Regions from separate parts of the Homo sapiens genome. Here all the other regions are reported to be linked to region 3. The links are microRNA targets in miRTarBase. Many come from high-throughput screens and were not tested one by one. Region 3 holds a microRNA gene; each other region holds the end of a gene's coding sequence.
Evidence for each region. The annotated mature microRNA hsa-miR-421 reads AUCAACAGACAUUAAUUGGGCGC and lies in region 3 at 3,301-3,323, shown strand. An mRNA with a match to its seed (bases 2 to 7 or 8) in the 3' UTR can be bound and repressed. Matches are read on the target gene's strand: a 7mer-m8 pairs with bases 2 to 8, a 7mer-A1 pairs with bases 2 to 7 and ends in A, and an 8mer does both.

Region 1: the mRNA of RHOBTB2 is a reported target of hsa-miR-421. The part of its 3' UTR that is shown has no 7-base or 8-base seed match.
Region 2: miRTarBase lists RBMXL1 as a target of hsa-miR-421. Seed matches in the 3' UTR shown: 7mer-A1 at 1,734-1,740 and 7mer-m8 at 3,464-3,470.
Region 4: the mRNA of RPL26L1 is a reported target of hsa-miR-421. The part of its 3' UTR that is shown has no 7-base or 8-base seed match.
Region 5: the mRNA of SRP9 is a reported target of hsa-miR-421. Seed matches in the 3' UTR shown: 7mer-A1 at 3,509-3,515.

What each region holds. Positions count from the first base shown.
Region 1 is chr8:23,016,973-23,022,072 of GRCh38, forward strand. RHOBTB2 (Rho related BTB domain containing 2) reads left to right here. Exons shown (of 10, transcript NM_015178.3): 10 at 280-3,227. The coding sequence ends at 497. TNFRSF10B (TNF receptor superfamily member 10b) reads right to left here. Exons shown (of 9, transcript NM_003842.5): 9 at 3,161-5,100. Among named protein-coding and RNA genes, the nearest start is that of RHOBTB2-AS1, 20 kb to the left of the region's middle. RefSeq lists enhancers at 1,296-1,565, 2,003-2,567, 2,568-3,130, 2,926-3,085 and a silencer at 1,540-1,707.
Region 2 is chr1:88,978,291-88,983,395 of GRCh38, reverse strand. It overlaps RBMXL1 (RBMX like 1), which reads left to right. Exons shown (of 3, transcript NM_001162536.3): 3 at 1-3,940. The coding sequence ends at 742. The region is part of intron 2 of KYAT3 (kynurenine aminotransferase 3); the gene reads left to right. Among named protein-coding and RNA genes, the nearest start is that of KYAT3, 12 kb to the left of the region's middle.
Region 3 is chrX:74,216,610-74,221,714 of GRCh38, reverse strand. MIR421 (microRNA 421) reads left to right here and starts at 3,254; the gene lies at 3,254-3,338. All of the region lies in intron 5 of FTX (FTX transcript, XIST regulator), which reads left to right. It overlaps MIR374B (microRNA 374b), which reads left to right and starts at 3,097; the gene lies at 3,097-3,168. MIR374C (microRNA 374c) reads right to left here and starts at 3,166; the gene lies at 3,097-3,166.
Region 4 is chr5:172,968,515-172,973,619 of GRCh38, reverse strand. It overlaps RPL26L1 (ribosomal protein L26 like 1), which reads right to left. Exons shown (of 4, transcript NM_016093.4): 3 at 5,021-5,105; 4 at 3,849-4,207. The coding sequence ends at 4,079. Among named protein-coding and RNA genes, the nearest start is that of RPL26L1, 12 kb to the right of the region's middle.
Region 5 is chr1:225,788,782-225,793,886 of GRCh38, reverse strand. It overlaps SRP9 (signal recognition particle 9), which reads right to left. Exons shown (of 3, transcript NM_003133.6): 3 at 3,423-4,647. The coding sequence ends at 4,528. Among named protein-coding and RNA genes, the nearest start is that of SRP9, 14 kb to the right of the region's middle.

The DNA.
Region 1 (5,100 bases), not on the chromosome of region 3:
TCGCCTCTGTTTCATTCCCAACGCACAGGAAGCCCTTGTCTAGATCGCCCGTCTTTGGAAAGGAACCCAGCTGGAAAGGCCTTCCCCAGTGCTGACTTTCAGCCCTGCTCTTTGGGAACTTTGCTTGCCTCGGAGGCTCATGTGCCGTGGGTCATGGGGATGTGCTGGGGGCTGGGCTGGAGGCCTGCTGCAGGCCTTGTGGTGGGGTAGGGCTGGTGTCCCACGTTCCTCTTGTCCCTCTGCCTCCTTTCTAACCAAGCTGCCTGCTCTCTGCTCCAGAAAACCAGGAGTATTTCGAGAAGCATCGGTGGCCACCTGTGTGGTACCTGAAGGAGGAAGATCATTACCAGCGGGCACGGAAGGAGCGTGAGAAGGAGGACTACCTCCACCTCAAGCGGCAGCCCAAACGGCGTTGGCTCTTCTGGAACAGTCCATCCTCCCCGTCTTCCTCGGCAGCCTCCTCCTCATCCCCATCTTCCTCCTCGGCTGTGGTCTGAGATGCTGCCACCCTCTTCTGACCCTGCTGCTGTTGTCCCCATCCGCCTTCACCCCTCTGCTCTTCCGCATCACCCCATCCACCTTACAGGGACCAGGGGGCCCACGTAACCAGGACCCAGAGGGTGGAGCTCTTCTTACCAGCCACCGTGGCTCAGCCAGAGAGGAGCTGAGCCCTGTGGAGCAGAACGGGAACCACCTGCAGAGGTCCCCAGACCCAAAGCAGGACGGGAGACAACTGCTTGGAGGAGCGAAGAGCCCTGGCATTTTATCTCTGGGTTTGAGAGCCCTAGAGTCAAAGGGAAAGCCTCCCAGCCTCCAGGGCTTCTCTGTGTGTCTTGGTTGCTGCTCTGGCCAGGGAGGCAGCCCCACTCCCAGCAAGCAGAAGTGATCCTCGAGGGTCCTGCCCCTGTTGGCCATATCTTTCCACCGACGGACTTGAGTGTTGCATTTGTTTTGTGGGCATTTCCACACGAAGCCTACTCACACCCTCACTGGAGAAGTCAGGGTAGAAATTGAGCCTTCAGAGCCCAACTCAAGGCTTCTACATCCTGGGGTGCAGCTGCAAAAGGCCAGACGTGGAAAGGCCTGTATCCTGCCAGTGTCCCTCCGTCCCAGGGGGCTGTGCTAGCACAGACCTGAGAATGGGGACACAGGTCATTCAGAGCTCCAGGCCTGGAAGCAGTGCCTCTTGGTGCAACAAGAAACTTCTCCCTCACCCCCTCCTTTACCCTCAGATTTGGAGATGGTAACCAAAGGAAGCAGCTGGGACAGGTGGAGAAGGAAGTAGGAATGAGTGCACGGCGACCCCGTGCTCCTCAGGGCCCTCCCCTGCCTCTGGGTGGCACTGCTTTTTATAGGGTGGGGCAAAATTAGCAAAAAACAAAAACCAATGACAACCAAACTGAAACCGAAACGAAAAATCAACAAACACTCTGTCCTCTATCCCTCCAAAGAATGAAAATCAGAAAAAGCCCCTGCCTAGCTCACATTTCTATAAACAGAGGCCCCCATGATGAGGAGGTGAAGATTTAGGTTGCAGAATCGACTCCAATGCCTTTCAGGAAAGGACTCGGCACTTCTCTGACTGCGGAGGCCCTGACCCTGCCAGCTGGCTCCGAGGGCAACACAGGGGCCTGGCCTCTAGAGGGCTGGTGATTGAGGGGCCCGGGCTGGCGGCAAAGAGGGGTTTGGTCTCGGGGCTTAAATGGCACCAGACTCTTGCTTTTGCCCATCTGGAGACTGCAGGCTCCCTTCCTTACCCTCAGAGAGTGCTTATGGTGGGTGTTTTTGCGGGGCTGCAATAGGGGCCAAAAGTCAGGGAAAGGGGCACTGACCTGTAGTGAAAGGCCACAGGACACAGCCTTATTACTGCTGGGGTGGGATAAGGGGAAGGAGAAGAGGGAGAATGGAGCAGGAGGAAAAGCAGAGTTGGTCTAGAGAGGAGGAGGGCGGGGCTGGAGGAATGTGGGGGATTGAAACTAGCTCCCAGCCCCCATGGGGCAGCAGCTGGGCCACAATTGCCCCTTTCCGTTTTCTAACCCCGACTCAGATTTCACCACCCACACTCTTTTTAGGTGTAAAAGATGGAGTCCCACGGAGGAGGGGCAGAGCCAGGAGGCAGTGGGGCTGTGGGCTCAGAGCTCAGGAGTCGCCTTACCTGAGAGAGATGTTCTAGCTGAGAGGGCCTGGCCCTGGGGTGGGCTCCAGGAAAACGCTGGTTAGGCCTGGGATTGAGCTAACCTGAAACAAAGGTAGCAGGCAGGACCTAATGACCAGAGGTTAAATCCTCATCAAGAGAGACCAGGCGGCTGGAGGACAAGCGGCTCTAACCCTGGGGGCGGCCATGTTGTCCAGGCCCAGGCCCCTCCAGGACTGTGGCTGCCTCCCCTCCACGGCCTCCAGGGCGGCTGGCTGGAAAGCCACGCGTATGCTGCCCTCTACAGGCTGCTCGGCCTCCCTGCAGCTCAGCGCAGCCCAGGGCTCCAAGTGAGGCCCAGAAGCCCATGGGCAGGGCTGGGGGGACGAAGGGGGAACCCGGAGCACCTCCACTTCTAGGGAAGATGGACAGCGTGGGGGCACACCTGGGCCTCCCGGAAGCTGTGGACGAAAGGGAGAGCGGGTCCTCCAGGGCAAGGGGAACGGGAAATAGGTCTCCTAGGTGCCTGAAGCGCTGAGCAACCTGGGTACCCTGGTGGGGATGCAGGGAAGGCCGGGGCAGAGAAAGTGAAGGTCGACCCAGGGCTGTAGGAAGCCATAGGAGAGTGACCACGGGATTCCCTGAGAAACAGGGCCGGCCCCCCAACTTCAGGGACCCACCGCCCATTCCCCGAGAGCTGTCGGAACCAGATGCAACCCGGCAGCCCAGAGAACTCTCCTGGGAGGCTGTGGGTGAGCCAGGCCAACATTGGTGTCCCTGTCCCCAGAGGGAGGAGCAGGCAGGAGAGAGAGGGGAAGGAGGTATGAATCCCAGTCCCCAGGAACCTAGCTCTTTAAACTCTGGGGAGTCGGATTCAGGAAACACCCCCAGGAGGCCAAGCCTGAAAACAGAGGGGAGGGAGGAAGGAAGGAGTCCCAGCAGGAGCACAGCCCTGGTTTCCTGTCACTCAGAGCTGATTCACAGGAGGAGGGGAGGTTGGGGGGCGGGAGACAAAAACCACACCTCTTTTTATATAAGGTTTCATATTTAATTTGGTCATGGATTCATAAATACATAAGTATTTTGTACACAATGTGCTTCCTTGTTTGTATTATAACACATTTCAAATAGGGACCTTTGACAGGGCAGAAGCATGAAAGGACACCAACCACGAGTGACACACTATACTATGGCTGTCCTGTGTCACATGCTATTTGGCCTGGGGATATAGCAAAGCCTAATGTAACTAAACAACAAAACCCCCAATTATTTCATGTCGTCAGGAAGCTTACTTTAAAAGAATAGCTTGGCCTGGCTGGTGGCTCACGCCTGTAATCCCAGCACTTTCGGAGGCCAAGGTGGATCACCTGAGGTCAGGAGTTCGAGACCAGCCTGACCAACATGGTGAAACCCCGTCTCTACTAAAAATACAAAAATTAGCCAGGCGTGGTGGCGGGTGCCTGCAATCCCAGCTACTCCGGAGGCTGAGGCACGAGAATCGCTTGAACCCAGGAGGCGGAGGTTGCACTGAGCCAAGATCGTACCGTTGCACTCCAGCCTGGGCGAGAGAGTGAGATTCTGTCTCAAAAAAATTAAAAATAAAAGAAAAATCTTAAACACTGATAAGGCTGACACTCTAGATGCATCTTCTAGGAAGGCCTCTGTGGAAGGGACAAGGGACCTGGGACCGGACTGGCACCTTCTGAGCCCTGAGGCTGAGCGTCCTGCACAGAAGGCCCAGCAAAGGCAAAGACCAGGAGGCAGCAGCACCCTGTGCCTTCCAGAAGTGCAGGGGACAACGCGTGGGATGCCAGATGGAAGTGGGAGAGGATGGAAGTGCAAAGACCAGAAAGGTCACCCCCCACTCCTAAAACTCCACAGACACAACAGTCTGAATGTGTGATCTTCAGGCAATTCTAACTTTGTCCCACCCAAACCAGTCCCGGAACAAAACACACAATGCCTTGAGACAGAAAAGACCAAAAACTCCTGGAATGACTACCTGCATAAATGATCCTTCCATGACTGAAATACTATGGAGAAGGGTTTGCTGGAAAGAGGCTGAAATGGTTACTGAGGTCTTAAAACAATAATAGAACAGGACACAAGAAGAAAACCTTAATGCGTCAGCCATTCTAGGTCCTGTTGCCACAGTGTTTAAGAATTGACATTTCTGAGATGAGTCAGATGCTTACAGAGCGGCCAAGGTCCTCAAGTAGGCAATCTGTACCCTAAAAGGCAGCTCATGGGCTCAGGGTGACAGATAACCAGAAGTGAGCCGGGCCATCTACTCCTGAGATGGCAACCATTTCACACCATTCTCAAGCACCATCTACTCTTCCCCCTTGATGCCATGGCAGACGTGGGAGACAGATTTTGTCTTCTATCTCCTGAGCCCAAACAGGGCTCAAGTTCACTTGGGATATGACATAGACCCTATTGTTATGTGTGATCTAACCCATCTGCCTCTGTCCCAGCCTGTCCATAGATGGGGGCTATGGGTGCAAATGAGACTGCCCAGGTAGGGACCAGCCACACACAGGACTTCACGTGGATCCAGTTCTCTTTGGTCCCGACTCATATGTAAACAACTACCTATAAATAATACTCATATACTTGTAAGGTTGTCCAGTTCAAAAGACTGGCCCCTGTAGAAGTTGCCAATCATTGAAGCCAAAGTACATCTGAGGGAGGGCTGGAACCCAGACAGTGACATCTTACAGGGGACTTCTTCTTCTTCCCCCATTGTATGTCTCCTCCTTTTATGTTTATCTAATCTATTCACATAACTATGTAAACAAGTACATTTACTAAAGTTTCTTCATGTTCATAAAATAATAACATACAGAATTATAAAAGTAGAAAGGTAAGGCCAAGCATGGGGGCTCACGCCTCTAATTCCACCGCTTTGGGAGTCTGAGGTGGGCAGACTGCTTGAGTCCAGGAATTCGAGACCACCCTGAGCA
Region 2 (5,105 bases), not on the chromosome of region 3:
GGGACCACTCCCAGTAAAAAGAGGACCACCACCAAGAAGTGGGGGTCCTTCTCCTAAGAGATCTGCACCTTCAGGACTAGTTCGCAGCAGCAGTGGAATGGGAGGAAGAGCTCCTCTATCACGTGGAAGAGATAGTTATGGAGGTCCACCTCGAAGGGAACCGCTCCCCTCTCGTAGAGATGTTTATTTGTCCCCAAGAGATGATGGGTATTCTACTAAAGACAGCTATTCAAGCAGAGATTACCCAAGTTCTCGTGATACAAGAGATTATGCACCACCACCACGAGATTATACTTACCGTGATTATGGTCATTCCAGTTCACGTGATGACTATCCATCAAGAGGCTATGGCGATAGAGATGGATATGGTCGTGATCGTGACTATTCAGATCATCCAAGTGGAGGTTCCTACAGAGATTCATATGAGAGTTATGGTAACTCACGTAGTGCTCCACTTACACGAGGGCCCCCGCCATCTTATGGTGGAAGCAGTCGCTATGATGATTATAGCAGCTCACGTGATGGATATGGTGGAAGTCGAGACAGTTACTCAAGCAGCCGAAGTGATCTCTACTCAAGTTGTGACAGGGTTGGCAGACAAGAAAGAGGGCTTCCCCCTTCTGTAGAAAGGGGGTACCCTTCTTCACGTGATTCCTACAGCAGTTCAAGCCGCGGAGCACCAAGAGGTGCTGGCCCTGGAGGAAGCCGATCTGATAGAGGGGGAGGCAGAAGCAGATACTAGAAACAAACAAAACTTTGGACCAAAATCCCAGTTCAAAGAAACAAAAAAAAGAGTGGAAACTATTCTATCATAACTACCCAAGGACTACTAAAAGGAAAAATTGTGTTACCTTTTTTAAATTCCCTGTTAAGTCCCTTCCGTAATTTTTATGTTCTTGTGAGGAAAAAAGTAAAACATGTTTAATTTTATTTGACTTTATGACATTGCTTTTCAACAAGCAAATGTTAAATGTGTTAAGCCTTGTAGTACTAGTGTTGTAACTTTCCAAGTAAAGGTGTCCCTAAAGACCACTTCCTATCTGGTTTTTCCCAGTAAATGAGGCAAGCAATTCTAAGATCTTCCACAAAACATCTAGCCAACTAAAATGGAGAGATGAATCATTCTGCCTATACAAACAAGCTAGCTATTAGAGGGTGGTTGGAGTATGCTACTCATAAGATTTCAGGGTGTTTTCTAACTGAAATCTCACTGTTCTCAGTATGCAAAACCTGAAATCAGATGCCTATGTAAGGAAAGTGCTATTCACCCAGTAAACCCAAAAAAAGCAAATGGATAATGCTGGCCATTTTGCCTTTCTGACATTTCCTTGGGAATCTGCAAGAACCTCCCCTTTCCCCTCCCACAATAAGACCATTTAAGTGTGTGCTAAACAACTACGGAATACTAAATAAAAAGTTTGGCCAAAACCAACCATGAAGCTGCAAAGGTGCTTGCTCTTACTCTTTCAAATTTTTGCAACTCTAATGTCTCACTTTTAAAGGAACAGCTTGATTGCAAAGGAGAAAATAGATAAGCAATGAATTTATCTCCAACTTCCTAAAGGCTTATGACTTCTAAAAAGTGAATCTATCAGCATTCCACATCAGATTTAAAGCATCAAATGCCTGTGAAACAGCAAAGATGGTTGAAGATTGTGCTCATTATGTTTGTGGAGTGCTGATTGATTCACAGTAGATAACGCTGGCAGTAAGAGAAATCAAATGCTAAGAGTTGTTGAAGCAGAAGGCGGCTGATTGTTGGTAAGTCAGTGCAGTTGCATAAGCAGTGCTGTCAGAATTGGTTTGGTGCAGGCAATAGATTTTGCCTTCAAGGGTTCCTGTGGATCTCAGGAAGGCATCAGTGTTGATTAACACTCATAACTAGGGAGTGAGTGGTAGTTACTTAAGTAATTGACCAAATGGAAAAGGGGAAGTAATTAAGGAAATTGGTAAGTGGAGGTAGTCAGGAGGTTCTCGTGGTCCTTTACACAGATTTTACAGCTTTGGGTTTCATTTTGTTTAGCTAAAGTCATGGGGACAACTCTTCAATTTAGAACTTAAGATGAATTATAAAAATGATGGATATAAGTGGTAGCTCTATCTGGTGAAGTGTCTTGTCAGTAAGTGAAACATTTTTTTGTGGTGGCTTATCCACAAACAGTTTAGTTGTAGAATAAAACTTATGAGTGACATCTGGAAAGTAACAACCATGCTAAGATGGCAAACACACTGGAAACAATTGGGCCACTTGGCTTTCTTTTGCTGTATTGTTTTATAAGCCTGCTTTACCTCCCCGTCTTGGAAACAAGTTTTAGTTTATTGCTTTGGAGACTAGAGCCAATAGTGTAATGTTCTCAAAGGAAACAGACTTGAGTTGTTGGATTAGAGGAACTAACTCAACTTCTAATTTTTTTTGTTGTAATTATGGCACTGTCATGTTTTAACATTTGCAACTAGGGATAGTAAGTACAACATTTTTAACTCTCATTTGGCAGACTACTACTAATCACAGACCACAAGGGTAATGACCAAATTTATGTGGTTGTTACACTTCCATAGTTGTCTTAGCCGAATCCTTCCATATTCTTATGATTACTTGGGTTAAAGCTTCTGTGAGGACCTTTTGGCTCTTAAGATATCCTAAATATTTAAAATATTTAGATATCCTAAATATAGGATATAGAGTTTGTACCAAATATGAATGAATATTGTTCAAAGCAAGGAGTATGTTAAAATGACCAGACACCTGTTTGATAAATAGTTTACTGAACTAGCAGACGTGTGGAAAAAGAATCAGATCTTGATTCTTCTGGGTTTATACTGGTTGTAAAACAGAATGATATTAGAAAATGTTTTCCTTGTTTAAGTGGTAGTTGAACATAGAACTTGGGTATTATAGATCACTTTTCACTTTTTGGAATGTTTTGTATTGAAACTTAATACAACTTTAACATGGCAAAAAAAAAAAAAATCCAAAATCTATGAGATAATTTTGTTAAAGTTGGCTTGCTTGGGCGGGTGCTTGGTCCAGAGGGAGAAAAGAAGGCATGATTTCAGAATACTCTGGCAGCTTTTTAAATTCAGCTTTATCAAGTTACAGTAAACTGTATCTGTTTAGAATTACAACTCAATGGTTATTTTGACAGATGTATATGCCATGAAGCCACTGTCACCATCAACATGCAGAACACTTCCATCGCCCCCAAAAGATTCCTCAAGTTCCTTTGCAGTCCATCCCTCACGCTGCTGATTTGTCTTTGTCACCATATATTAGTTTGCTTTGTGGTGGTGTTTAGTATTTTATATAAATGGGATTGTGTAGCATGTACTTTTTTGTTTATGGTTTCTTTCACACACAATGACTTTGAAATTCACCAGGTTGCAGTGTATCAGTAGCTTATTCCTTTTATTGCTGAGTAGTGTCCCATTATGTGAATATGCCATTATTTGTTTTTCTACTCACCTGTTGATGGACCTTGGGATTGTTTCCAGTTTGGGGCTACTGTGAATAAAACTGTTAGGAACATTTGTGTACAAGCCACTGTGTAGACATAGGTTTTCCTTTCTCTTGGGTAAATACCTACCAGTAAAATGGTTGGGTTGCATGGCAGATTTATGTTTAATAAAGTAACTGCCAAACTGTTTGTTTTCCAAAGGGGCTATACCCTTTTATATTCCCACCAGGGTTGTATAGAGTTCCAACTGCCAACACTCAGTTTTCAGCCATTCTGATGGGAATCTAGTGGTATCTCATTGTGGTTTTATTTTCATTTCCCCGGGTGACTAATGCTGGTAAGCATCTTTTAAGGTACTTTTTGGCCAGTTGTATATTTTCTGTGAAGTGGCTGTCAAATCTTTTGCCCACTTTTAATTGGATTGTTTGTCTTATTGAGTTGTAAAAGTTCTTTATATATACTGTATTAAAGTCCTTTGTAAGACACATGTTCGTAAATACTTTTCTTTCATTATATGGCTCAGAATCTGGCAACTTTTTAAGAGATACTTGAGCCCACTGAATGATATATAGATCTTATAGTTTTTTTAAGTCAAGCCTTAATAATAATTAACATTTTTTGAGTGTTCATCTCTCAGTCCCTCTATGGCCATGAAGGTGGGAGATGTGACTCTGTTTAGTCTCAAGTAAAGAAATGCAAACTGAGATAATGGGTACAAATGGAGATGAAGCAAAGCCCTGTGATGTTCAAGTTCCTGGTTTCTGTTACCATTCAGTCTGGCTGGACCTCTGCCTTTCCCATGGTAACATGACCTTTCTAATGAATTCTCCCTTTTCATCTAAACTGTTTCAGATTGAGTTTCTCTCACATAACTAAGAGATCTGATTACTATAGCTTCGGAGCTTCTAAGGCATCTTATGCACTTGTCTCTTCCCCACTGTTCAATCTGAAGCATGTACTCTGCCCTTTAGCAAAAATCACAACTCCACCAGGTGTGGTGGCTCATGCCTGCAATCCCAGCACTTTGAGAGGCCAAGGCAAGAGGATTGTGTGAAGCCAGGAGTTCGAGTCCAGCATGGGCAAAGCAAGACCCTCTCTACAAATGAATGTTTGAAAAAAAAAAAAATTAAGGCCGGGCATGGAGGCTCACACCAATAATCCCAGCACTTTGAGAGGCCAAGACAGGAGGATCACTTGAACCCAGGAGTTTGAGACCAGCCTGGGCAACATAGCAATATTCTATCTCTACCAAAAAAAAAAAAAATTAAGAACAAAATTAGCCAGGTGTGGTGCCACATACCTGTAGTCCCAGCTACTCAGGAGGCTGGGGTGGGAGGATGACTTCAACTTGGGCAGGTGAGGTTGCAGTGAGCCATGATTGCACCACTGCACTCCAGCCTGAGCAACAGAGCAAGACTCTGTCTCAAAAAAATTAAAGTTAACCAGGCATACTGGCACACATATGTCATCCCAGCTACTTGGGAGGCTGAGGTGGAGATCACCTTAGCCAGGAGGTTGAGGCTGCAGTGAGCCATGATGGTGGCACTGCCACAGCCTGGGTGACAGAGCGAGACCCTGTCTCAAAAAAAAAAGACACCACAACTCCACCCGGAGAAGAAATAAAATCTCAAAGAAGCATGAGCAGCCAAC
Region 3 (5,105 bases):
CATGTCACCATGCCTGGCTAATTTTTGTATTTTTCGTAGAGATGGGGTTTTGCCATGTTGTCCAGGCTGGTCTTAAACTCCTGGGCTCAAGTGATCTGCCCACCTCAGCCACCGAAAGTGCTGGGATTATAGGTGTCAACCGCCACACCCAACCAAATGAGTTATAAGTTTGTGATCTGTTTTTAGCCTTTGTCCACAACTGTGGGAGTCACCATTCACTCTGTGACATAGGCTCTCAGAATGATGGCTCTCTTGACTGTGGCACTGATCATAGATTTAGAAGCTCCAGTATGGGAGGACCTTAAAAGTCTCCTATCCCAAATAGATTATTTTAAACTAACCCCAGTTCAAGTCCCTGGATAACATACCCAACAAATGGTCTTTTAACTTCTGAGTAAGTTTACTTGGTAACTGGGGACTCCTCCTTGAGTTAGCTTGTCCCTTCTTTTGAGACCTCTTTACAACATTGAGCCCCAAAATGTTTTTCTATAGCTTCAATTCATTCAGCATATTTGTATTGTACCACTACTCAAGAACATTGCTTTATTCTCACTCCTGCATATTCAGCATCTCTCCTCTCTGCTGTCATTTGAGCTGCCAGGCACTGTGCTGGGTAGTGGGGATATGGAGATGAATTAGACACCATCCCCGTCCTCAAGGAGTTCTCAGTCTAGTGAGAGAGATCAACATCTATGTACACATATAATTACAACAATATGGTATGCTCTACAATGGAGGTATGTATAAGATACTCTGGAGTTCAAAGAGAAATCATTTTACAGAGTCTGGAGATGACAGAGCTCAGAGTACCTGGTATATGAGTTGAGTCTTTAAAGAAGTAAAGTCACCTTTTGACTAGGTGAAAAACAGGGAAAGGCTTTCCAAGCAAAAGCATGGACATTGGAAGTAGTATGATGAGTTTGGGGAACTACAAATAGTTCTCTAAATTAGGTTGGAAATGTAGGCCAGGAATAGAACTTTATATGGTATGCCATGGGATTTGGATTTCATTATAAGTGTTTTCAGAAAGGGATGCTTTTAGATGATCACTGGCAGTAGTGTGGGGTGTGTTCAGGAATGTTTTCAAATCTGGACAGGGAGATGAGTTAGAAGGATACTGTGGTGGCTAAGATGAGAAATGATGTAGGGCTGAAAGGAGTGGGAGTGGCGAAGAGGGGATAACCTCTTAGGAAGTTATAAAAATTTAGTCATGCATTGCTTAGCAATGGGGATATGTTCTGAGAAGTGTATTGTTAGGCGATTTTGTCATGTGAACTTCATAGAGTATATTAACACAAACCTCTCTAAATGGTATAGCCTATTACACACCTAGGCTACAAACCTGTACAGCATATGACTGTACTGAATACTGTAGGCAATTATAACAGAATGGTAAGTATTTGTGTACCTAAACATATATAAACATAGAAAAGCTACAGTAAAAATATGATATGATTTTGTGGTGGGACAACTGTGGGACAACTGTCATATATGAGGTTCATCATTGTCCTAAACATTGTTAGGCAGCACATGACTGTATAGACATAATAGAACTTATAGGAAAAGTTATAGAAAAACTTATAGAAAAAGACCTTGATGAAAAATACTGTCATATTCTTTGGATGAATGTTGCAATTAACTCCTTTTAGATCATAACTTGACTGTACAGATTGTGCAAGATTGTTTTCTGGGAACAGCTGTATATGAAATGTTGATTCTCAGGGAGACACCTAGACACCTGAATTGCAGCAGACATTTTATGGTGTTGCTAAGTTGCTGGTCCTTCTCATCAGTAGCAGGCCTACTCTCACTGTCACATATCTCCCACGGTTTTTTTTTTTTTTTTTTTTTTTTTTTTTGTAATTAACCAAAAGTGAAGGCTTTTATATCAAAGACTCAATTGAGGAAGCAGTGGCCTTAGTCATTATTGGCATAATTGCTTTAGTTTGCTTATGGATCTTAAAACGTTTATGACTATATCTGCAAGTAAAAAAAAAATTCAATAATTAAAAACCTAAACATATCGAGTGTTTATTTTCTCTTTTTGCAAAGGTATATTCTAAACTCAATGTTCTTCGGGAAATTTTCCAATTAAGGCTCTGAGTATTGATATTTGGGATTTAGAGAATGGCTTTCTATGACCAGAATGGTTAGTGATGAGATTTTATGTAAGTAGGACTGGGTTTTTCAGGGGGCCTTGTGTAACTTGCCATCAAGAGTTGGGAAAGGAGGCCCTGAGCAGTGCAGCAGAGCTATGTAAAGTGAGAGTTTGGGTCTTGGGACCAGGTAGCCTGGGCTCAAATCTGCTCTCACACTTAGCAATGTGGTCTTGAGCATGATTCTTCACTTCCCCAGGACTCTGTTTTCTCTTATGTAAAATAGGAATAATATTTATTTTCAATGATGGGGGTAAAAAGTACTTAAAGGGACTAATTATGTAAATTGCTTAGAACAGGCCTGGAATATACAGCTAAATGCTGTGTCAACTGTTGTTGCTGATAATGGTGTTGACTATGACAAGTATTAAAAGAAGAGATTTGACTAGAGGTACTTATATTTTGAATGATCAGTGACGATGTTAGGGTTGAGAAAGAAAAACAGTAACTGACTTGAAGGTTTTCAATGGTATGTAAGTGTGAGGTCATTTCACCTTTTATTTCTCTGCCAGGTAGAGTGGGAAACCAAATTAATCACTCCATGATCTAGTGACTAATCTATTGCCTTTGCTTTTAGTTCCAAATAGAAAGCTGTTGAAAAGTTGTTGTATTACACCTGCATAAAGGTTATCCTGAAAACAGAAAAATGCATTAGACTTTGTCAAAACTGGATTTGAAACCTAATTCAACTGCTTGCTGGCTGTGTGACTTAAACTTGTTGAACTTCAGTTTCTTCCTCTAATATAACTATTAATTTTCAGAGTTTCCATGAAGATATTTGTAAAGTGTTTGTCATAGGCACTCTATACATTAATTACAGCTATTATTGTTAGATCTTGGGACACCCAGCACGTGACAAAAACAACAGCAGACCCTGGTGCCTGGGAGGACTTCATGGATCCAGCAGCAACCTGGAGTGGTGCTCCTCTGAAGAAATCCTACTCGGATGGATATAATACAACCTGCTAAGTGTCCTAGCACTTAGCAGGTTGTATTATCATTGTCCGTGTCTATGGCTCTCGTCTACCAGACTTTAAATTCCTTAAGGGCAAGGACAGTGCCTTACTCATCTTTGTATTCACAGTGCCTAATCCGGTGCACATTGTAGGCCTCATTAAATGTTTGTTGAATGAAAAAATGAATCATCAACAGACATTAATTGGGCGCCTGCTCTGTGATCTCCATGGGCTCAGCTTGTCCCCGCCAGTTGCCAACAACGTCCAAGCTCTCTTCAGAATGCTTACTCCTGAAGCTTATTCCTGTCTTCTAATTCTTTTGTTGAGGACTTTTCTGTGTAGTGCAATGATAGCAAATACACTTCATCTCAAGTACCATCTCCAATTGATTGATAATGCCTGCCCTGATTATGTTTTATAACAAGATTCTGAAACCAGGTCTTATCTCAGTGTGAAAGACATTTATAACTATTTAGTGATGTCTGCTGAGGGTCGGAGAAGGGGGAGTAGCAGCACAAGTGCCTCATATGTCATATTTGCTACTCTGTTTTCTATGAAATACTTCATTTCTATGCCTGCATTTTGGTCTTAGCTACTTGCTGATGTTGCATGGCTGTTGCTGCTACTGTAATTGCTGCTAATTGCTCCCTGGGTTGGACCAGAGTGCTCATTGTCTGAACAGAAACCTCATCCTCACAGTCTGAGGTTTGCTCCTGTGGCTGATATTTAAAGTTTTCCCCTTTCAACTTTACTCCAGCTATCCCCTTACCTGCACTGACAGGTAATCCTCCACCGTCCTGTTCACCTCTCACCAGGTTCATATTTTCTTTATCTTATTTATTGTACTTAATCATTATTTTGTGAGAAGCTTTTCTGATTGTAGATGTGACAACCAGAATACAAGTTAAAACCACTTATCCAGCGCCTTACAGTGAATCATTTAACATGAGAAAAAAATTGAGTGTGTTTGCAGACCATGGGGCAGAAGGAATTGAGAAGGGAGTCATTGTAGATGTGAGAAAGAGAGAGATGATAATAGATGGAAGATGATCTTGAAAGATGATGCAGGTGAAGCTGGAAGGGTGAAATTTATGGCTCTAGAACACATGCAGGTGGAGGGTTAGCCTTAGGTAAGTGGAACTACCTCTTTGCTGGAGCACAGAGATAGGGATAGGAGTAAGGAAGAGGACTTGGCAAGGGTGGTGAAGATTTGTAATTGTAGAGGTGGATGATGGGGAGGAAGCTGACCAGGAACAGGAATATGAAGACAAAAGCTGCTGGAACAGAAATACTAGAGGGCTAAATATGAACCAGAGTCCCTAAGGAATATTCAGGCCAAAACGCTGGAGTGAGACCATTAACAGGAGAGCTTATGGTATATCAAAGTAAGAAATGAGTTTGAAACTGGGTTAGAAGCTCAGGAAAATATGAAGTGGTTTTGGGGCATTGTCACTAGCAGTATTTGGTTGCCTTGATTGATTGAGGGGTGGACAGCTAGCAAGAGACGAGTTACACAGAAATGGATTTAAGAATCCAAACTAAGGCCGGGCGCGGTGGCCCACACCTGTAATCACAGCACTTTGGAAGGCCAAGGTGGGCAGGTCACCTGAGGTCAGGAGTTCGAGACCAGCCTGACCAACATGGTGAAACCCTGTCTCTACTAAAAATGCAAAAATTAGCCAGGTGTGGTGGCACATGCCTGTAATCCCAGCTACTCAGGAGGCTGAGGCAGGAGAATCACTTGAACCCAGGAGGCGGAGGTTGCAGTGAGCCGAGATCCCACCCACTGTACTCCAGCCTGGGTAACAGAGTGAGACTTCATTTAAAAAAAAAAATCCAACCTGGACATGGAAGGAAGTAAGGTCAGGAGTGGCCTCAGTCTGGGCCAAAAAGAGGCTTTAATGTGAACAAGGTGAGTGCTGAGTAATTGGAAAACTGGAGTGATAGGACCTGTAATCAGAGTAGACTTTGGAGTGTTAGATTTCAAAACTGG
Region 4 (5,105 bases), not on the chromosome of region 3:
GCCCACCCATCTGGCATTCTCCAATCCTCATTTCCTGCAGCAGCCCAAACACATCACTGTTGCCCTTAAACCCTTCCCTTTTTTCAAGAATCAGTATTTGTCTCACCTCCCTGGAGAAAAACTTTTCTCTATGTTCCTGTGAACGAATTCCATTGCCAATCTCCTTTAAGACAATAGCTAAAACTTCCTGAGCACTCTGTGCTTTACACACAGTATCTCAAGTAATAAGTCTGACAACTCTATGAAGTAAGTACTAATTTTATCTCCATTTTATAAATGACAAACCTGAGGCCCAGAGAGGTTAAGCAGTTTGCCCAAGGTCACACAGCTAGGAAATGACAGAGCTAAGATTAGAACTCAACTTGAGGCCTAGTTCCTGCTCTTGATCATGCATTATTATTATCAACCTGGCTCAGTATAAGCAGTGTGGTATGATTTGGATACCTACAGGGGGATTGCAGCTCTCAAAGCTCTTATTGGTCATTTTTCTTGGAATAAGTTGCTGAAAACAAGCCAGGTCTGATTCCTAGATGATATCATAACTTAAATTTACTAATGAAAGTAATGGCTGGAGCCTGGAGCTCAGACCAGGTTACAGACTGTAGAGTAAGGAGCTGTGAGTTTAGTATGAAATCTGACTTTCATGCAACTCTTAGAGTCCTAAAATATGTATTGGTTGAGAACAAAGACAAGAATCAAATTAGAAAATATAAATTTCAGAATTTACTAGTTAACCTACTCACTATACTCATTAGATACATAGCTCAGCATGTTAATGATTATACAGCTGCTGTATGGTGGGCACCTACTCTTTTATTTATTTGTTATTTTTGAGGCAGGGTTCCGCTCTGTTGCCCGGGCTAGAGTGCAATGTCATCATGGCTCACTGCAATCTTGACCTTCTGAGTTCAAACAATCCTCCCCACCTCAGCCTCCTGGGTAGCTGGGACTACAGGCATGGGCCACCACACCTGGCTAGTTTTTAAATTATTTTGTCGATATGGGGTCTCACTATGTTACGCAGGCTGGTCTGAAACTCCTGGGCTCCAGCGATCCTTCCACCTCAGCCTCCCAAAGTGCTGGGATTACAAGCGTGAGCCACTGTGTCTGGCAGCTTTTTACATAAATAGAAAAACAGAGAATCAGAAAAATGACCTCCCAAGAACAAGAGCAGGATTTGAACCCAAATCTGTCTGACTCCAGGGACAGGACAGTATCTGTCTACCTTGTATCAGTGAGTTCAGTGTATCAATGCCAAGTCAGAGAACACATCTTGAGTTTTGTGGTTTTTGAACTCACTGATTTTTTTTGTTTTTTTGAGATGCAGTCTCGCTCTGTCTCCCAGGCTACAGTGCAGTGGTGCAATCTTGGCTCACTGCAACCTCCGCCTCCCGGGTTCAAGCGATTCTCGTGCCTCAGCCTCCTAAGTAGCTGGGATTCAGGCGTGCGCCACCATACCCAGCTAATTTTTGTATTTTCAGTAGAGACGGGGTTTCACCATGTTGGCCAGGCTGGTCTCGAACTACTGACCTCAGGTGATCCACCCACCTTGGCCTCCCAAAGTGCTGGGATTACAGGTGTGAGCCACTGCGCCCTGCCAAACTCACTGATTTCTTTTCTGAAAAATAACTGCCTCTTTGAGTGCAGAGTGAATGTCAGAATTGGACATATAAGTAAACTGAACAATGATAGTGAAATTAACATTTGTATACTCATAGCTTTCAAAGAGTACTCAGAAACGGCCCATCTGATCTTGCCATTTTATCTTTGCATTTTCGATGAGATAAGAAGGCAGAGCAGGTATTATCATCTGTTTAGAAGTCCAGAGATGAGTAACTTGCTCAAAGGCTGATGACTGCCCAGTGGCAGAGCTAGGATTAGACCTGGACAGTTGGTGATAATGCTTTCCTAAGTAGCACTACCGGCTGCAAACACATAGGTTCTTGTCTGTTCCACATAAATATGCAGTCTCTTATCAGACTCCAGTGAAAGGCTGACAAGAGTGAAGGAAGGAAGACTAAAGATAAGTGGCTAATGTGGGAAGTGAATGGCCTTTTGATGCAGTCAGGCTCAGGTTCAAATCTTGGCTTCATTTCTTATGCTGTGATTTGGACAGTTAACCTAAGCTTGTTTTCTTCATCAGTCAAAATGGGAAACAACACTGATTCAATTAACATTTATTAAGAAATTCCAGTGTGTCAGATAAACCATTACTAGAAAGTCATAAAAGGCTGTTTGATACATTTTAATCAATACATTATTATTTTTTAGGCTAGTCATGGTGGCTCATGTCTAATTCCAGCACTTCGGGAGGCCAAGGCAGGAGAATCACTTGAGGCCAGGAATTTGAGACCAGCCTGGGTAACATACTGAGACTCCCATCTCTACAAAAAAATTTAAATATTAGCTGGGTGTGGTGGCACATGCCTGTAATCCCAGCTACTTGGGAGGCTGAGGTGGGAGGATCACTTGAGCCTGGGCTGTCAAGGCTGCAGTGAGCTGAGATCACACCACTGCACTCCAACCTGGGTGACAGAACAAGACCCTCTCTTGAAAAAAATTTTTTTGTGTTTTTTTTTAGGACAGGTGCAGTGGCTCATGCCTGTTAATTGCAGCACTTTGGGAGGCTGAGACAGGCGGATCACTTGAGGTCAGGAGTTCAAGACCAACCTGGCCAACATGGGGAAACCCCGTGGTGGCGCAGGCCTGTAATCCCAGCTACTTGAGAGGCTGAGGCAGGAGGTTCACTTGAACCCGGGAGGCGGAGGTTGCAGTGAGCTGAGATAGCGCCACCGCACTCCAGCCTAAGCAAGATGGAGACTCCATCTCAAAAAAAGTTTTTTTTTTTTTTCCCACAGGGACAGAGGATTTTGGATGTGGCCCTGGAGATACATTTTCTAAAAATTTTTATTCACTACATACCTCTCAAAGGAATTAAATCTTTTTTTCTAATTAAAAAAATTAATTTTTTTTTTTTTTTGTAGTGGTGGGGTCTCAGTAACCAGGCTGGTCTTACACTTCTGGGTTCAAGCCATCCTCCCACGAGTATCCCAAAGTTCTGAGATTACAGGCATGAGTCACTGTGCCTGGCCAAAGGAACTAAATCTTGAAGATTTAGTTGCTTGAAAGTTAGACCAGGAGTCTAATGCGGAGGCCAATGGAGGCCAGGCAAGAAGCGTATGGGAGCAGAGCAGGTGGGATAGGGAACCGCCAAGCCCTTGGCTGCACTTAACACTGCAAAACAGGGAGAGCCCCGTGGAGCCAGGTGAAGCAGGTGATTCTCTGTGGAGTCTCCCACATTTTAAATGTTGGAAAATATAGTGAAAAACAGTATCTCAGTTAAATCTTTCCTGTAGGCTGCCAGTTTCTCAAGTTAGTTCCAGAGGAAAAGGGGCTTTTTAGTCACATGAAAATGGCAATTGCAAAGTCAAAACTTTGGGAAGATAAGCCTGGTCAGGGAGCTGCACATGATTTGGTTTAGTTGGCACTTGGAGAGAAAGCTGGGGAAGCCCAAGTCAGGAGGCCAGAGAGCAATCTGTCAGGCGTGAGATGTGACAGTGCACATTACAACTGCTACTGAGTGGGGCAAATCCCTGTGTCAAGGACCAGAGCATGGCAGCTCACGCCTGTAATCCCAACACTTTGAGAGGCCAAGGCAGGAGGATCATTTGAGCCTAGGAGTTCAGGACCAGCCTGGGCAAGATGATGAGGCCTGTCTATATAAGACTAGAGCCCTGCCCTTTCTACTTCATCAGCACAAGAGTCCAGGCAAGAGGAGGGCCATTTAACCCTACCCCTGCGATTTTGCTGTTCCACACATTAAATAGGAAAAGACTGGCAAAGGGGAATTGATAGTAAGTGGAATTTATTTATAAAACAATGCAAATACTATGTGGAATTAGGAAGCATTTCCCATTTTTATTCATAAAATTATTACTTAAAATTGCAAAAGTAGATTTACAGAGGCACAGGTAACAAAACAGGAAATGAAATGTTCCAGACATTCCGAAAAGTTCGAAAGAAACACACCCTAGCCTCAAAATCTCCGGTTAAACCGTGGTTGCACAACAGGTTCTATTTATTCCTGCATTTTCTCAATAAGTTCTTCTTTATATTTGCCTTTCTCTTTTCCAACTTGTCGAGACTTGGCTTTGCGTTCAAGAATTTTTTTCCGATCCTTGTCCAGTTTTAGCCTGGTGATAACCACCTGTTGGGAGTGAGAAAACAGGTCTTTATTTCTGCATCCCCACCAGCTATTGAGCAATATAGACATCATAAGTTAAGTAAGACCTCAGCCATTCAGCTTTTAAGGAACTGAAACTCTGGAAGGAAAACAGACCCTGTAACACAATACAAAATAGGAACACAAAGGAAAAATAGCATGTTCCACTAGGTAGGCATGAGGGCTACAGGAAGATATATTCTCTCTTATTCCTCTGAATATTATGTGGTAGGGGAAGTGATGCCTAGAACACTTGGAAGCCTCTTGCAACCAGCTTAAAGACACAGCCATCGGCCGGCCATGATGGCTCACACCTGTAATCCCAACACTTTGGAAAGCCGAGGCGGGCGGATCACGAGGTCAGGAGATCGAGACCATCCTGGCCAACATGGTGAAACCCCATCTCTATTAAAAATATAAAAATTAGCTGGGCGTGGTGGTGTGTGCCTGTAGTCCCAGCTACTTGGGAGGCTGAGGCAGGAGAATTGCTTGAACCCAGGAGGTGGAGGTTGCAGTGAGCCGAGATCGCACCACAGCACTCCAGCCTGGTGACAGAGCGAGCATCCGTCTCAAAAAAAAAAAAAAAAAAAAAAAGACACAGCCATCACCAAGAAAGGCAAAACAGAAAAGAGAAGAGAAGAAAAATCTGGATCCTTGATGATATCACAAAGCTACTGAATCAATCAAGTCCACCTGGCCTGCCTCAGCCAACTGTGCAGGGAGTACCAAAACACCAATAACTTTGAACAGTATTGACACACTCCATGGCTGCTACTGCCACTCAGTCCTTGACCATACCTTGCTTGGGTGAATGCCCACGTGGACAGTTGTGCCGTTGGCCTTCTCACGCTGCACCCGCTCGATGTAGATGACATATTTCTTT
Region 5 (5,105 bases), not on the chromosome of region 3:
GAGGTTTACAGATTGACACACAGGCCTGGTTGGCAGTATTCCCCGAAAAAATAAATCATGGGCTGTTTTGCATATGATTTCAGGGCACAGTTTAAAATATAATCATTCCCATCCTAAAACCCTGAGGTTCCATCTGAATAAGTTCAAATATAAACAAAATAGAGTTTAGTTTAAAGGTGGGGATGCTTGAACTTGGGAAAATTGTATAGCAAGTTAAGGCTGAGGTGCCATAAAATAATTCCTATGGAATCATCATTAATTAGTCCCCTAAGGGGATCTTTAAAGAAAATTGCACCAGAAGGCCTTCTTGTAGAACAAATGTAACAAACTGATAGAACCATTGGCAATTAAATAATACACAATATATTTGGACAAAAGCTGAGGTCCCTATCATATGGAGTCCTACTGGCATTGTCGCCCCTAGTCCAAAAATGGTATCTCCTGCCATAGGACAGGAACATTCTGAATTATGGAAATTAGCTATGGCTCAAAGTTCAATCCAAATTTGGGAGGGTAAATATAACAAGTATAAAGGGGAAGGAGGTAAAAATAAATATGCTCTTTCTTTTCTTTCCAACAGGACTTTTTGGATTCAAAGTTGTGTCCGGCCACCTTTTCTGCTAGCAATAGGAAATGTTACTCTTGATATAAACACACACTTTATTTCATGCCCCGCATGTCATTTGTTTACCTGTATTAGTTCAACCTTTAATAAAAATCAGACTGTCCTAATAATTAAAGCCAGGGAAGGAGTCTGGATACCTATGTCTTTAAATAGACCGTGGGCGGCATCTCCATCCATTCATACAGTAAATGAAATCCTTAAAAAACTTTTATCCCGTTCAAAAAGATTTATAGTTGCTCTCATAGTTGCTATAATTGGCCTCGTTGCTGTTACTACTACTACTGCAATAGCTGTACATGAATGGCTCTACATTCATCTGTACAAAGTGTTAAATTTGTCAATAAGTGGCAAAAGAATTCCACAAAATTATGGAACTCTCCAACTCAAATAAATCAAAGAACCAAATTAATGATCTCCATCAGACAGTGATTTGATTGGGAGAGCGTTATTGTAAGCTTAAAAAGTAAAATTCGAATGCATTGTGATTGAAATACCTCTGATTTTTACATTACTCCTCATCTGTATAATGAAACAGAGCATGAGTGGGAAAAAGTTGAGACATTTAAAAGGTCATACTGGAGCCGGGCACGGTGGCTCACACCTGTAATCCCAGCACTTTGGGAGGCCGAGGTGGGCGGATCACGAGGTCAGGAGATCGAGACCATCCTGGCTAACACAGTGAAACCCCGCCTCTACAAAAAATACAAAAAATTAGCCGGGCGTGGTGGCGGGCGCCTGTAGTCCCAGCTACTCAGAAGGCTGAGGCAGGAGAATGGCGTGAACCCAGGAGGCGGAGCTTGCAGTGAGCCGAGATCGCGCCACTGCACTCCAGCCTGGGCGACAGAGCGAGACTCCGCCTCAAAAAACAAACAAACAAACAAAAAGGTCATACTGGAAATTTATCTTTGGATATTGCAAAACTGAAGGAACAAGTATTTCAAGCCTCTCAGGCACATCTGACACTAATGCCAGGAAGTGAAGTGCTTGAAGGAGCTGCAGATGGATTAGCAGCTATTAACCTGCTAAAATCGATCAAGACACTTGGAGGCTCTGTGATTTCAATAATGATTGTGCTTTTAATCTGTGTTGTTTGTCTTTATACAGCCTGCAGATGTGGAAGCTGCCTCTGGAGAGAAAGCCACCGCCAAGAACAAGCAATGATAACTATGGCGGTTTTGCAAACAAGGAAAGGGAGACATGTTGGTAGAAGAGCTGAGGCAGGACTGGCTTGTCTGTCATAATGTAAGTCTTGAAAGATGTCCGGGGTCCAGGTTCTAAAACCCCTCGTGGCCTTTGGAACACCAAGCTCTGTGCCAAAGGGTGGAAGGCTGCCCTGCCGCACCACAATCTAAGCCCAGGGCATAGAACCCCTTGTGGCTTGGATGGAACCCAGGGCTCAGGGCCTAAGACCCCTTGTAGCCTCTGGAATGTGCACAGACTTGGTTCCTTGCTTCTTACTTGTAAACATGTCCTCCATTAACTCAAGCAGCAGAGCATATTCTATATACATCAAACGAAATGCTAAACCATCACAGCTACGCTTATGTACCACTACCTTTCTACCCCACATCCTCACGCCCTCACCTGTTTACCCTCACGTCCTTACCACCTGCTTCTTTGTTTGATCACCAATAAATAGTGTGGGCTCCCAGAGCTTGGGGCCTTCACAGCCTCCAATCTGGCACTGGCCCTCTGGACCCACTTTATGCACTTTTTTTTTTTTGAGGCCCAGTCTTACTCTGTCACCCAGGCTGGAGTGCAGTGGTGCGATCTCTGCTCACTGCAAGCTCTGCCTCCCGGGTTCACACCATTCTCCTGCCTCAGCCTCCCAAGTAGCTGGGTCTACAGGCGCCCGCCACCACACCCAACTAATTTTTTTCGTATTTTTAGTAGAGACGGGGTTTCACGGTGTTAGGATGGTCTCAACCTCCTGACCTTGTGATCCGCCCGCCTCGGCCTCCCAAAGCGCTGGGATTACGGGCGTGAGCTACCGTGCCTGGCCCACTTTATGCACTCGTCTTTTCTCATTCCTTTGACCCTGCTGGACTTTGTAGCCCCCATGGCCTGGTGTTGGGCCTGATCACCCCAACAGTGTGCCACTGTGTCCAGCTCATTTTTGTATTTGTAGCAGAGATGGGGTTTCACCTTGTTGGCCAGGCTGGTTTCAAACTCCTGGCCTCAAATGAACCGCCCACCTCAGCCTCGCAAAGTGCTGGGATTACAGGCATGAGCCACTGTGCCCAGCCTTGGATCATGATGTTTAATCTTAACAGTCTTACAAGCAAAGTACTATTGTTGGCCCCATTTCCAGAGATGAAAATGAAGGCTTAGAAAAGTATCTAGTCTAAGACCACAGAGTTAGGAAATAGTGGAGCCAGGATTTAAAGCCAGGCAGTCTGACTTGGAATGTCTGTTCTTAACCACTCTGTTACACGCTACCAGGACTCAAAGAACCCAAATGCCAGTCTCTCCTTTTCAGGTCATCTCTGTAGTGTTAAATAAGGGGGAAAAAGGTCAAGCCTCTCCCCTCCCCTGATGGTGATCCCATTAATTCTGGGGGAAAAAAAAACAAAAAGCCAAAATAATCCTATACTATTTGATGTTACTTTTCTAATTCAAGAAAACAAACTTGCTATTAACATATAGTGCAGAGAAAGTCATATAATATAAAGTACTGAGAAACAAAAAATTTGCTTTCAGCATTACTAGGCTCATTTTGGACTAAATGAATATAGTATATCCCAGCTCAGAAATCAACAATTTCTGAAAAGTTAAAAACTTCAACACAAACAATATATATTTTATCTAATATTTTATTTACTGATCTCTCTGAAACATGCCAAAATTCATATAGCTAAGGGAACTTACCATGCTAAAATGCTGTTCAACATGACAAATTTATACAAAACATATTTCAATGTAGTGCCTTCATTTCATTCTTGAGGAATCAACATTACATTTAGGTGGTGAAATACAAATATAATTATCAAATATCGTACTTCTAGTTTACTGGAAAACATAACAGTTGTGACAGTCACACCTAACACCTTGGTTAATTAAAGACAGAAAATGGGCAGGGGTGTCACAGAAGTATGCAAGGATTTGACAGTTCAAACTAATCCATAGCCCTTCTGAGAAACTACAGATGGAAAATATGTAGTAAATATTTCTGTAATATGGTGGTTTCAGTACATTATAGCACAGTGATCATCATTCCATTCATACACTCAAATAACTGCTGCTTCTGATCACTGAAAACTAGATTCAAAGTCATTGCTCAACAAGCTGATACTACAAATCCCTTATATTAACAGGTAGTTTAAATGTGGAAATAAGGCAAAGCATACTTGTTAGTCACAATTACTTTCAGATATAATTGAGACTACACTGCTATACATAATTAGGTACACAGTATGTATAACAATGCATACTATGGTGTGGAGTTAATTCCAATTACCATATTTTATATTTATTGGTCACAACAGCATACATTTTATGCTCCAAAATACATGGATCTGACAAAATGGTTACATTTAATGTTCTTTTAAAGAAAGATGAACTAAATTTAAGAAGAATTGGTTTTTCCTAATATCTCATTTTCAAATTACTGATACAAATTTGCCAGAGAAACAATTACATGTTTTACCTAACATCAAATAATCTCCAGTTTCTAAGACAGATGCATTTCTTGTTCAATTTCCAAAAGTAAATAAAGGCTTTCTAACTGAAAACATTTGCATCCCTAGCTCTCTAAAGTAATTAAAAAGAAAATTACAAAAAATGACCTCTAAGCTTCTGAACAGCCCACTTAGTTACATAAAGTACTTTCTGTCCCAACACTTTCTCTAATTCAAAAGATATTTACTTCCTAAGTACACGACAAAGTCTTCATTTCAAACCATTCACTCAGTTTCCATGGTAACATTGCGGGCTTCCTTGGCTACCATAAGTCGCATTAGTTGACTGTGGAATTTCTCAATCTTCTTTACATCTTGAGCTTGGTCTGTTTTATACACCAAACACTGTCAGAAATTTTAGAAGTACATATTAACTATATAAAACTAGATACTGACAATGTAGAAAACATACAATTGGGTAAAATTTTGAGAGTTTTTCCTACCACTGTTTTGCTCTATTCTCCTTGGAGGTCGTACTAGGGAAATTGCACTCAAGTTTCCAAGCCTCCAGCAATTCCATGTCTTAAAGTACAGTAATTTAAATGCCACTGCTGTGGACAAAAAACTGAATGAAGTCTATTAGAAGCTTCTGAAAAATGTTAAATGTTAAATCCTGCTATGGTCTGATGAGAAGAACTCAAGACTTAGAATTAGATATTTTCTTCCTTCGAATTAGGTATTAGATTATCTCCCTACATATTTTCTCCCAGCCATAAGTAACTGAGTTATGCTGGAAAAAAAAACACAGAAATCTTAAGATCTCTTTTTCTACTGGTGAAATTGGGGGTTTGATAATAATTTTT